Linked DNA regions of Homo sapiens: region 2 is linked to region 1. The links come from fine-mapping of genetic effects on gene expression. A gene starts in region 1. The other region holds a variant in brackets. All regions are shown on one strand. Distances are between the middles of the regions. Region 1 holds the start of UTP20 (UTP20 small subunit processome component). Region 2 overlaps UTP20 (UTP20 small subunit processome component).

Region 1 (5,388 bases):
ATTATCTTATCTTTACAACCTTGTGCTCCTTTACCTATAAATATATCTTGATGAGTAACATCCTCAACCATTCAGCCTTAACCTCATTATCTTCCTTGCTGCAAACCCAGTAGGTCACAAGTCCTATCCATTCATTCTACTTCCTCAACATCTCTGGAATCTTTCTCTTCTCTCTATCTTGATTGCTGCTACCATAATCATTTCTTACTTAGATAACAGTCAAATCCTCACAACTGGACAACTGAGATTGGATCTCCAAGTTAAAGGCATGTTACACAGGACCTTAAAAGGCTAGCAGAGGAATCATGACATGATGAAGAACTGCAGTCCTGCTCTTTTCTCCACACTAAAGCCAGAGAGATTGAAAATTTAAACCTGATCATGTCATTCATTCCCCTGCTTACAGTCCTAGAACTCTAAGTCCCTACAGCTTCAGGATAAAACCCCAACTTAGCTTCACATATGAAGTCCTTTATGATCCTTGCCTATTTCTCCAGCTTTATCTCACCAGTTGCCCCCTTGCCCCATCCCAGTCACCATGAATACAAAAAAAAAACACCCTATACACACCTATAACCACACTGGACTGCTTTGCAGTTTCTTGAATGTGACATGCATTCTCTAGCTTCTGTTCCTTTATATAGGCTTCTCCCTCAGCCTGGAACAGGCTTTCCTGTCCTCTTTACCATGCTAAAACCTATATAAACAAAATTCAGGTGTCACCTCGTCTAGATCACCGTTTTTTTGACACCCCTAAAGAATGTAGGTTAGGTTCCCTTTACTATGAGTTCTCAAAGCACAATGTGCTCACCTAGACGACATCATTTAACACATTGAATTTACACAGTGGAGATAATGCATTCAAAGACCCAGCGAGTGGAGTCTGATTATAGTAAAGAAGAATATTACGAACTGAGATTGGATCGCCAAGGTATAGGCATGTTACGTACGACCTTAAAATGCTAGGAGGAATAACGACATGATGCAGAAAAAGACTTCTGCATAAAAGGATGACAAGGCCGGGCGTGGTGGCTCACACCTGTAATCCCAGCACTTTCGGAGGCCAAGGCGAGCAGATCACGAGGTCAGGAGATTGAGACCATCCTGGCCAACATGTCAAAACCCCGTCTCTACTAAAAATGCAAAAATTAGCTGGGTGTGGTGGCACGTACCTGTAATCCCAGCTACTCGGGAGGCTGAGGCAGGAGAATCGCTTAAACCTGGGAGGTGGAGATTGCAGTGAGCCAAGATCACGCCACTGCACTCCAACCTGGAGACGGAGCGAGACTCCATCTCAAAAAAATGAATAAATAAATAAAAGTAAAATAAAGGGATGACAGAGTCAGAGTATGGTTAAAACTGGAAAATATTATGTAGTCTAGCCCCTTTATTTTTATAAAGGAGAAAATTAAGCCCCGGGAAAAGGGCTTCCTCAAAATCACTTTAAAGTTATAGCTTCAGGAATATGGATCTGCAGCAGTGCTTGGAATGCATAAGGGAAAGGGAGAGGCTAGAATCACAAAGACAGCTGAAAGTCAAGTCAATTGTCTAATAGAGCTTCACCCAACAGAACTTTCTGCAAAGATGAAAATGTTCCAATTCTATATTTATTCAATATGTTAGCAACTAGCCACATTTGGGCACCCAAATTTTTAATTTACTTTAAATCCAATTTGTCATATGTGGCTACTGTATGAAACAGCACAGGTCTAAAGCATTTCATGTCCAAAAAGGAATACCTTGAAAAACAATTCACTTCTACTAACAGAAGAAACTAAAACACCATGAACACTTGAAGATTGACTAGTATCACATTCTCTTACCTCCTCATAGCTTGCAGTTCTATCAATCCGGTGAATAATATCAATATTAACATTCCCCAGTCGTTCAGCAAATGTAAGAAACTGGAAGGGAAAGTATATTTAAGATACATAATTAATTAAAATTTATCAGATCTTTAATATCTATTTGAATGCTGCATGTAGGCATCTCTAATCACAAAGGATAAGTGGAAAAATAAACTGAAAAACATACGGCCGTAAACAAATTTACTGCATCACTGTTCAAAGATAATGAATACTTCTATGTTTGCATAATTTCTCTCAGCTATGTCATTTCAAATAAAATTTCCATTGCCAGACTGGTGAGCCTAGGTGGATGCTGGCAATTAGTCTCGCTAGATCTATTAGGTTTCATACCCTCCCATAAGCATGGGGACCTAGCAAAGTCGCTGCAATAAAAGTGTTTTTAAACATATACAGACCTATGATTGTATCCTAAGGAAGACCTGGAAACAATCTATCAAGGGGCAAACAGAGAAAGCGCTGTATATTTGCCCTTAGCTGGGAATCACTCACCGCCAGCCGACTCGCCCAATTCGGTCTTTAAAGATAAAAGAGCAGGGGAGAATTGGTCCTAAGCAATCTCCTGGAATAGTGAATTTAATTCTGGACTACAGGAAATTCCCAGGACTGGCCAGACCCCATAAAACATGGGTGAAACTTGCTGTCCACACTTCTTTCCTCCTCCAACCCATGTTTACTACATCCAGTGTCTCCCTCTTTCGCCGGAGCCTCCAGGAAAGTGACACACTCGGCCCAGAAGTCTGAGGCCCCTGGAGTCTCGCTCAGAGCCTGTCTCACGACTGAGGCAGCGGAGACCCGCGGCTCCCTGCCTAAGCTCCCGCGCTCACCCGGTAGGTGTTCTCGGTCTTGTGGGAAACGGGCTTTGTCTTCATGGCTGCAGAGGGCCAGTGGCCCGCGACGGCCTCGGGAGTGTCGAAGGGATGCAACCGACAGTAAGGAGGGGAAAGCGGCTCACAGGCTATACTCTCCGATTCCCAGATGCCCAGACTTTCTCACGTGCGGCTTGAGCCCCTGGGCGCCGCCATGTTGGAGACAAGGAGGAGCCTGAGTGGGTCACGTGGACGGAAAAAAGAACGGCGCAGGCGCACCCTTTGGTGGGGTGGGGCCTACAGGAGGCGGGGCTGCGCACATAAGGGCGGGCGTTTGGGTGAGGTGTTCTTTTCACTCCCTTCGGTAAAGGTTTAGAAGACAAATGTATTTTCATTATAAAATAAAACATACCTGTAATCGTTATCAACTAACATTACTGTCCCTCACTACGTACCTGCATCGTGCAAAGATCCTTTCATCCATAATTTCACAGTAAAGCTTATTAGGGATGTTAATACAAAGGAGGTACTGCGTCTATCTATATATCTATATATAGATATATACTTTTTTTTTTTTTTTTTTGAGACGGAGTCTCACTCTGTCTCCCAGGCTGGAGGGCAGTGGCGCGATCTCGGCTCACTACAATCTCCGCCTCCCGGGTTCAAGCAGTTCTCCTGCCTCAGCGTCCAAAGTAGCTGGGACTACAGGCACCCGCCGCCACGCCCGGCTAATTCTTTTGTATTTTAGTAGAGACGGGGTTTCACCTTGTTGCCCAGGCTGGTCGCGAACTCCTGAGCTCAGGCAATCCGCCCGCCTCGGTTTTCCAAAGTGCTGGGATTACAGGTGTGAGCCACCGCGCCTGGCCGGTACTGTGTATATTTTTAAGCCAATTTGACACAAGAGGAAACCAAGGTTGTGCAGCTGGTAACTGGCAGTCTTCACTCAGACTCTAAATTTTGGTATTCTTAACCACTACGCTGTAAATAAAATTGAAAAATAGAGAAGGAGTTTTAAGAAAAATCTTTTAATTTCATGCACAACCGCTGTTAATGTTTGGTGTTTTTCCCATCACTTTAATGTCTACACATAGCATGTTGTTAAATTGTACAGTTATATATACATATATGTACAATTTTAAAAAATAATTTAAAAATATAATTATTTACCCCATTTTACATTCATTCATTCATTCAGCAACTATTTCTTGAGAGTCCTCTGTGGACCAGGTACTGTTCTGGGAGCCAAACGAGAAAGGCAATAATAGTATTAATTAATTATTTGAAAATATTCACAGCCTTCAATTCCTGGGCTAAAGTGAGCCTCCCACCTCAGCCTCCCAAGTAGCTAGGGCTACAGGCATGCACCACCACACCCAGCTCTTTTATTATTATTATTATTATTATTATTATTATTATTATTATTTGTAGAGATGGGATCTTGCTATATTGCCCAGGCTGGTATCAAACTTCTGGACTCAAGCAGTCCTCTTGGCTTGGCCTCCCAAAGTGCTGGGATTACAGGGGTGAGCCACCATGCCCAGACTGGAAATACTTGGTCTGAGATGCTTACATTTTAGTCAAGGAGTGATGTTAAGTAGACAATTGGATATATTGTTGTACAGAGCTCACTGTAGCAGTCTGGGCTGCAGACGTGACTTAAATACACCTAAATACCTCAAGTGTGAGGCATTTGCGACTGGGAAAGAGAGCCAGTAAGGTAGAAACAGACTAGTTATGGCATGGAAGCAGAGCTGGTGGCCAACTATACTGCAAATTCGAGGATAGAGAAGTGGTTGCTGGATCTGACAAGGTGAAGGTCACTGGTGACCTTGCTAAGTACAGTCTAGTTGGAAGAAAGGAAGTGAAATATGCATGGATTGAGGAGGTAATCAGAGTTGAGAAAGTGAACATAACACTTTCAAATTGTTATTGGCATTATCACATCAACATTTTCTGTGTCACCACAGGGTTGTTCTAAATATTTTAATGCCTCCATAGCATTTATAGATTTTTTTATAATAAAATATTGACGTGCCTAATGTTCCATTGGCTTTCAGTAGGCTAATAATTGGTCTTTTTTTTTTAAAAGCCTTTTATGGGTCACAGGGAAATCTAAGAAAGCTGTAGAACTTCTCCCAGAAAGATGCAAAGAAGCTCATCCACACTAAAATGTGCACGTTTCAGAGAGTTAGAAGCCTGCAGTTAACTGAGGGTAGAAGCCCCCACTCAAAGCAATATTTTCCCAACCTGTTGCCAAAATCACCCCCACATCATTGTGCCATTTTCCTTCTCTGCAATTTATTTTTGGTAATGGAGTTAACTGGACAATAAGGAGTGAAGAGAAAAATCAAAGAAACTGAAAGAACTGACACAAGTTATATTGACCATTTATTGTTTGCATTGTTCTTCATTACATGACCCTCACACACTGACTTGACTCTGACTGGCTTAACAATATGTCAATAGAACATGGTGGTTGAGAGCATAGATGCTGGAACCAGGTTGTCTGGAGGTAATCCTGGTTCTGCCATTTATTAGTAGGGTCAGTTACCCTTTCAGAATGACATTTCCGTATATGTAAATGAAGCTAACAAAAGTAGCTACCTCACGGGTGGTGATTATGCAGAGTAAATAAGCTAATGGATAAAAGATGCTTAGAATGTGCCAGACACCATAATTGCGCAAGCTCAGAAATTACTTAACCTTTCTGAGAC
Region 2 (5,388 bases), 61 kb before region 1:
TCCAAAAAAAAAATTTACAATTCAGTGGTTTTAAGTATATTCACGAGGTTGTGTGATCATCACCACTAATTCCAGAACATTTTCATCACTCCCAAAAGAAACCCTATACCCATTAGAAATCACGCCCCATTCCTCCCTTTCTGCAGCCTTTAGTGACCTAATGTACTTCATCTCTATGGATTTCCCTATTCTAATACATAACTTCTTGATTTTTTTCAAAATGCTTTCATATGTATTATTTTATTCACAATATTTGCCTTTTAAATCATGAGAATAACTGTTTTGCCAGACATAAGATTCTTCATCTAAAAGAAATTTAATCCTAAAAACCTTTGTCCCCCCTCAAAAAACAAATTTAAAGATCAGGTCACTGTATTAGGCAGCCGTATTACCAAAACAATAAAAAATAATTTAAAAATTTTGCTATAATAACCTACCTCTAGATTATAGAAACAATTATGCATAACTGGAATTAGGTAGTTAACATCCACAATTTGCATTTCTTTAATGTAAGAGGTGATGGTCTGGAAAGTCTCAAAGCGAACGTCGAAGTTGATATCATCAAGATGTCTTTGATCGAAGGCGTTAAGCTATAAGAAATGCCATTGAAGTTATATAAAAGAAGGCATATAAATCTTCAGTAAACAAAAATGATAATACTTTTGAAGCCAAAGAGAAACCCTTCTTTCTTACCTTGACAACATCAGTAATATATTTTAACCCACTCTCAAAATCAGAAAGAGTCTGAAAGGAAAGAAAACAGTGTATTTATCAGTGAATAAAACTTTAACTTTTCTGCCCTCCTCCCCTCAGCTACCTGTCCCCATTCAAATTCATATAAAAACATCACCCTGGCATGAAGAAAGCCCCTAATATGGTTTACAAGTCATAATTACATTTTTTTAAAAGGGTGATTTGGAGTAAAAATGAATAGTACAGACCTCAAAAACCGTACAAAGCAATTTTCTTGACAATTTGTTCTTAATAACTGAGAAAAGTTTTGCTATAGGCTTGAGGAAGCTTGTAGGGTCCACACAATGCTTTAACAAGTTTTGTACTGTCACCAGAATATCAACCTCTGTATCCTTGAGAAGAAATAATCAGAGAAATCATATTTCAGTAAGTTATAAACTGGTCAACTTATACTTTAATATATTATAGCATAGAAAACAATTGTGAATAAGATGTAAAAGTAGTAATTGGAAAAATTATTTTATCGTCTTTTAAAAGTTTTTAGCATTTTAATTTAATGTAAAACCCATAAGAATGTGTGAACCAGTTTCTTCCTTTAATTCTAATAAGCAATATATGTAGTTTTGAAACATAATTTCTTCTATTGTCTAATCAAAAAAGATACAAGAAAATGAGCTTGCTGAAGTACAGTCGTCCCTCGGTATCCAAGGGGGACTGGTTCCAGGACCCCAAAAAATACCAAACTCCAAGGATGTTTAAGTCCCTTATATAAAAAGGCATGGTATTTGCATATCACCCACACACACCCTTCTGTATATTTTAAGTCACCTCTAGATTACTTATAATACCCAATACAATGTAAATGCTACGTAAATAGTTGTTATACTGCATTTTTAAAATTTGTATTATTTTTATTTTATTTATATATTTTTTGAGATGGAGTCTCACTCTGTTGTCCAGTCTGGAGTGCAGTGGCATGATCTCAGCTCACCACAACCTCCACCTCCTGGGTTCAAGCGATTCTCCTGCCTCAGCCTCCTAAGTAGCTGGGAGTACAGACATACGCCACCATGCCAGGCTAATTTTTTTATTTTTAGTAGAAACAGGGTTTCACTATGTTGGCCACCCTGGTCTTGAACTCCTGACCTCGTGATCTGCCTGCCTTGGCCTCCCAAAGTGCGGGGATTACAGGCGTGAGCCACTGTGCCCTGCCAGTTAAAGTTTCTATCATTTTTATAATTATATTGTTATTTCTCCAAATATTTTCATCTATGATTGGTTGAATCCACATATGTGGAAATGTGAATACAGAGGGCCAACTGTATACATTTCTGGTTGTCTACAGATCTGTGGTCTTCTAAATTGAACAACTATGTGGGGAGAAATGTTTAGTATCACTACTGAGGTCTGACAAATGAGCTTGAGCCACTGGAGGACTCCTAATTAAGATTGAACTAGGGTTTGAAAATCATATCAGGAACACTTAGCTGTGTCTGAATATTAAAAGTCTGATTTTATTCTGTTTTGCCACTGTGATCTACAATTAAGATTATATAATGAGGCCGGGCGCGGTGGCTCATGCCTGTAATCCCAGCACTTTGGGAGGCCGAGGCGGGCAGATCACCCGAGGTCAGGAGTTCCAGGCCAGCCTGGCCAACACGGTGAAACCCCATCCCTATTGAAAATACAAAAAAACTAGCTGGGCGTGGTGGCAGGCACCTGTATTCCCAGCTACTTGGGAGGCTGAGGCAGGAGAATTGCTTGAACCCAGGAGGTGGAGGTTGCAGTGAGCCGAGATTTTGCCATTGCACACCAGCCTGGAGGACAAGAGTGAAACTCCATCTCAAAAAAAAAAAAAAAAAAAAAAAAAAAAAAAAAAAAAAAAAAAAAAAAAAAAAAAGATTACACAATGCACTTCTTGGGTTCCAGGCTTGTTAGAGAAAGAAAAACCCCTGAAATGAATCAGAAGCTAAACAAGGGAAATAAAGGGGCTAGTACTTTGTTGTTGTAGATGACGATGTCTCCGCTTTCTTGCCTGCCCCCATTCCTAGTGTCTGTCCCAGTCTTTTCCCTCTATTTCTAATTTTTTTAATTTCTATATAAAGTATTTTAAGTTCCTTGCGACAAATGCATCACAAAATCTAGCCAGTAAAATTGCTGCTCGCAATTAAACCTAGTGATAAAGTGCCACTCTAGAGACAAAGTTAAGTGTCCTATGAGTTTGTACCTCAGCAATATTGCCACGGTGGAGGAATGGAAGGAGAAGCGTAATGAGTACAGAACTTTGTTCTTTGTCTTTCATAAACTTGCTGATCCTAAAGAAGGAAAAAACGGATAT[A/G]TAAGGAACATATACAAGGATATTTCTCTAAGAAGTTAAACTTTTTGTAGAAAAACAATGACTAAAGACACAGTTTTAGCATTCCAATACACAGCTAGCTTTTAAGTATGTGTGCATGTATAAAAAGTTTACCTCAGTTACTTAGCTGTGCTCACTCTTACTCCTCTCCAACATCAAGCTCATGGCCACTATTCTATTTCTTTTGCAATATCTGATTGTGTGGGTTAGAGTGAACAGGTGAATAGGTGGGTTAGAGTGAACTCCAGTCTGGTAATTAGTAATTGTTTTATTTTGAAAAGAAATAACATTTTTAAGTGCCAAGACTTAAGGGTTTATGTACAGTATTTCAATTTAACACCCATGATAGCCCTGCAATATAGGAATCATCAGCCTGATTTTGCCCTGAAAAAAACTGAGACTCAGAGAAACTGATGTCTCACAGCTAGAAGAAGTACAGCAGGTCTTTCAAACTCTGGTCTTTCTGGTTCCTAATCTCCTCTCATCATCCTTCTACTACTACATAGCCTGGGATGAAATTTAATGAGTGTATTAGTATGATTTCCCACTCTGCATAACTTAGAAATACAATAGTATTTTAAAATGCATTGCAAAGAAGTTTCTAGAGGATTCGAACATATCACTTTTTGTTGACACTGTTGTAAGTAACAGAAAAAATACATTTTCAACAACTAAGCCTTGTAATGGTCAACTTAAAATTAAGATAGAATTGTTTCTTGCACTCAGGTTTATTAACCTTTCCCTTTACCGAAATCACAATACACTCCTAGGTCTACTGCCAAACAGACTCTTTAACAACCCTTGTGAGATCTTGACTCAAAAAAACCGAACAATCTGCTCTTTTAAGTTAATTATTTTTATCATTACACTAAAGAGTAAAAAACTGCAATTCCACAAAACTCAAAATACACAAATGCTAAACAAACAAATCTATTAGTCTACTTTAGGATTTTGAAAAATCTGTCCCCTTTAATTTTATTAAATAAAGGCAGATGCTATGAACGGTTTCTAGTAAGTAATCCAGCAGAGAAAGGGAATTCTGCATTAACTTAAAAGTAAAGGGCATTCAAAAATACTAAAAAACTTTTTAGCTTCTTATTGCCAGATTCCAACACCTGAAAAACAAGATAATAATTTTTTTTAAATTTATTTTATTTTATTTTATTTTTGAGATGGAGTCTCACTCTGTCGCCCAGGCTGGAGTGCAGTGGCGCGATCTCGGCTCACTGCAACCTCCGCCTCCTGGGTTCAAGCCATTCTCCTGCCTCAGTCTCCTGAGTAGCTGAGATTACAGGTGTCCACCACCACGCCCAGCTAACTTTTGTATTTTTAGTAGAGACGGGGTTTTGCCATGTTGGTCAGGCTGGTCTTGAACCCCTGACCTCAGGTGATCCACCCACCTCAGCCTCCCAAAGTGCTGGGATTACAGGTGTGAGCCACCACGCCTGGCCAAGATAATAATTTTTTAAAAAGTTAAAACCAAGGATGGTAATGTTATCTTTTAAGTATCAACATATCACTTACTTTGAAAGAATGCCAAGCTCTTTACTGACTTGTGCTCTATTCTTTTTCTTTTTCACCTTTTCTGCGCTTATTGTGGTTTTGCTGAGATACTGAAGAATTGCAGGTACATGAGGTAGAATTAATCTTCCTCCTATTGTGATAGACTCTGAAATAGATAGTGATTTGATTTGATTTTAATAAACTCTCTTAAGGCATAATTGTACAAAATCTTCATGATGATAAGAAAAGCACTCAACCACTATGAACATTTAAGTTAAATTTCAATTCTAAATAAATTCTAAATTCTAAATAAACAACTTTCTTCTTATTCAAAATAGCTATATTACTAGCTAAATCAAGAACTTATTTAAGAGACCCCTGAGGCTTTATTTAAACCATTTTTTGGTAATAGTAAGGGAATTATTTGGGATAATATGGTAAGAAGAATGTAGAGACATGACAGTAGAAATCATTTTCATAATTTCCTGCAGCAGAGTTGAGACTTCTTGGAGAGTAAATAATCTATTCTTATAACTACAAAGAAAATTCAGTTTATATAAATTAGTATTAGTTCCCAGGGAAAAGAAACTTCTGAGCATATGCTCTCGAGTGAGTCAAATTATACTGATTTTTTTTCTCTTCTAAGGAAACAATTGCTACAGCAGAAGTCTAAGAATTATCTGCTTTGTCAGCATACATACCACCGATGTTTTCTGCTATGCCAGGGTATACACATCCAGTTACCAGCAAGTTCAAAACTGTTTCTGTAGGCTCGAAATCTGGAAGGTTAAGAAGGTCATCAACTATGTCCATTACAATACTGGCTGTGGCATCAG

What was found. PIP is the estimated chance that this variant, and not a neighbour inherited with it, causes the effect.
Region 2: its variant is the best candidate, but not a certain one, in a credible set for the expression of UTP20 in skeletal muscle (GTEx, PIP 0.76).

The regions. Positions count from the first base shown.
Region 1 is chr12:101,277,632-101,283,019 of GRCh38, reverse strand. It overlaps UTP20 (UTP20 small subunit processome component), which reads right to left and starts at 2,915. Exons shown (of 62, transcript NM_014503.3): 1 at 2,693-2,915; 2 at 1,824-1,904. The coding sequence starts at 2,737. RefSeq lists enhancers at 2,842-2,891, 2,625-3,216.
Region 2 is chr12:101,338,143-101,343,530 of GRCh38, reverse strand. UTP20 (UTP20 small subunit processome component) reads right to left here. Exons shown (of 62, transcript NM_014503.3): 30 at 5,254-5,388; 31 at 4,574-4,718; 32 at 2,921-3,008; 33 at 942-1,085; 34 at 694-744; 35 at 438-590. Among named protein-coding and RNA genes, the nearest start is that of UTP20, 61 kb to the right of the region's middle. The variant A/G (reference allele first, on the strand shown) is at 3,032.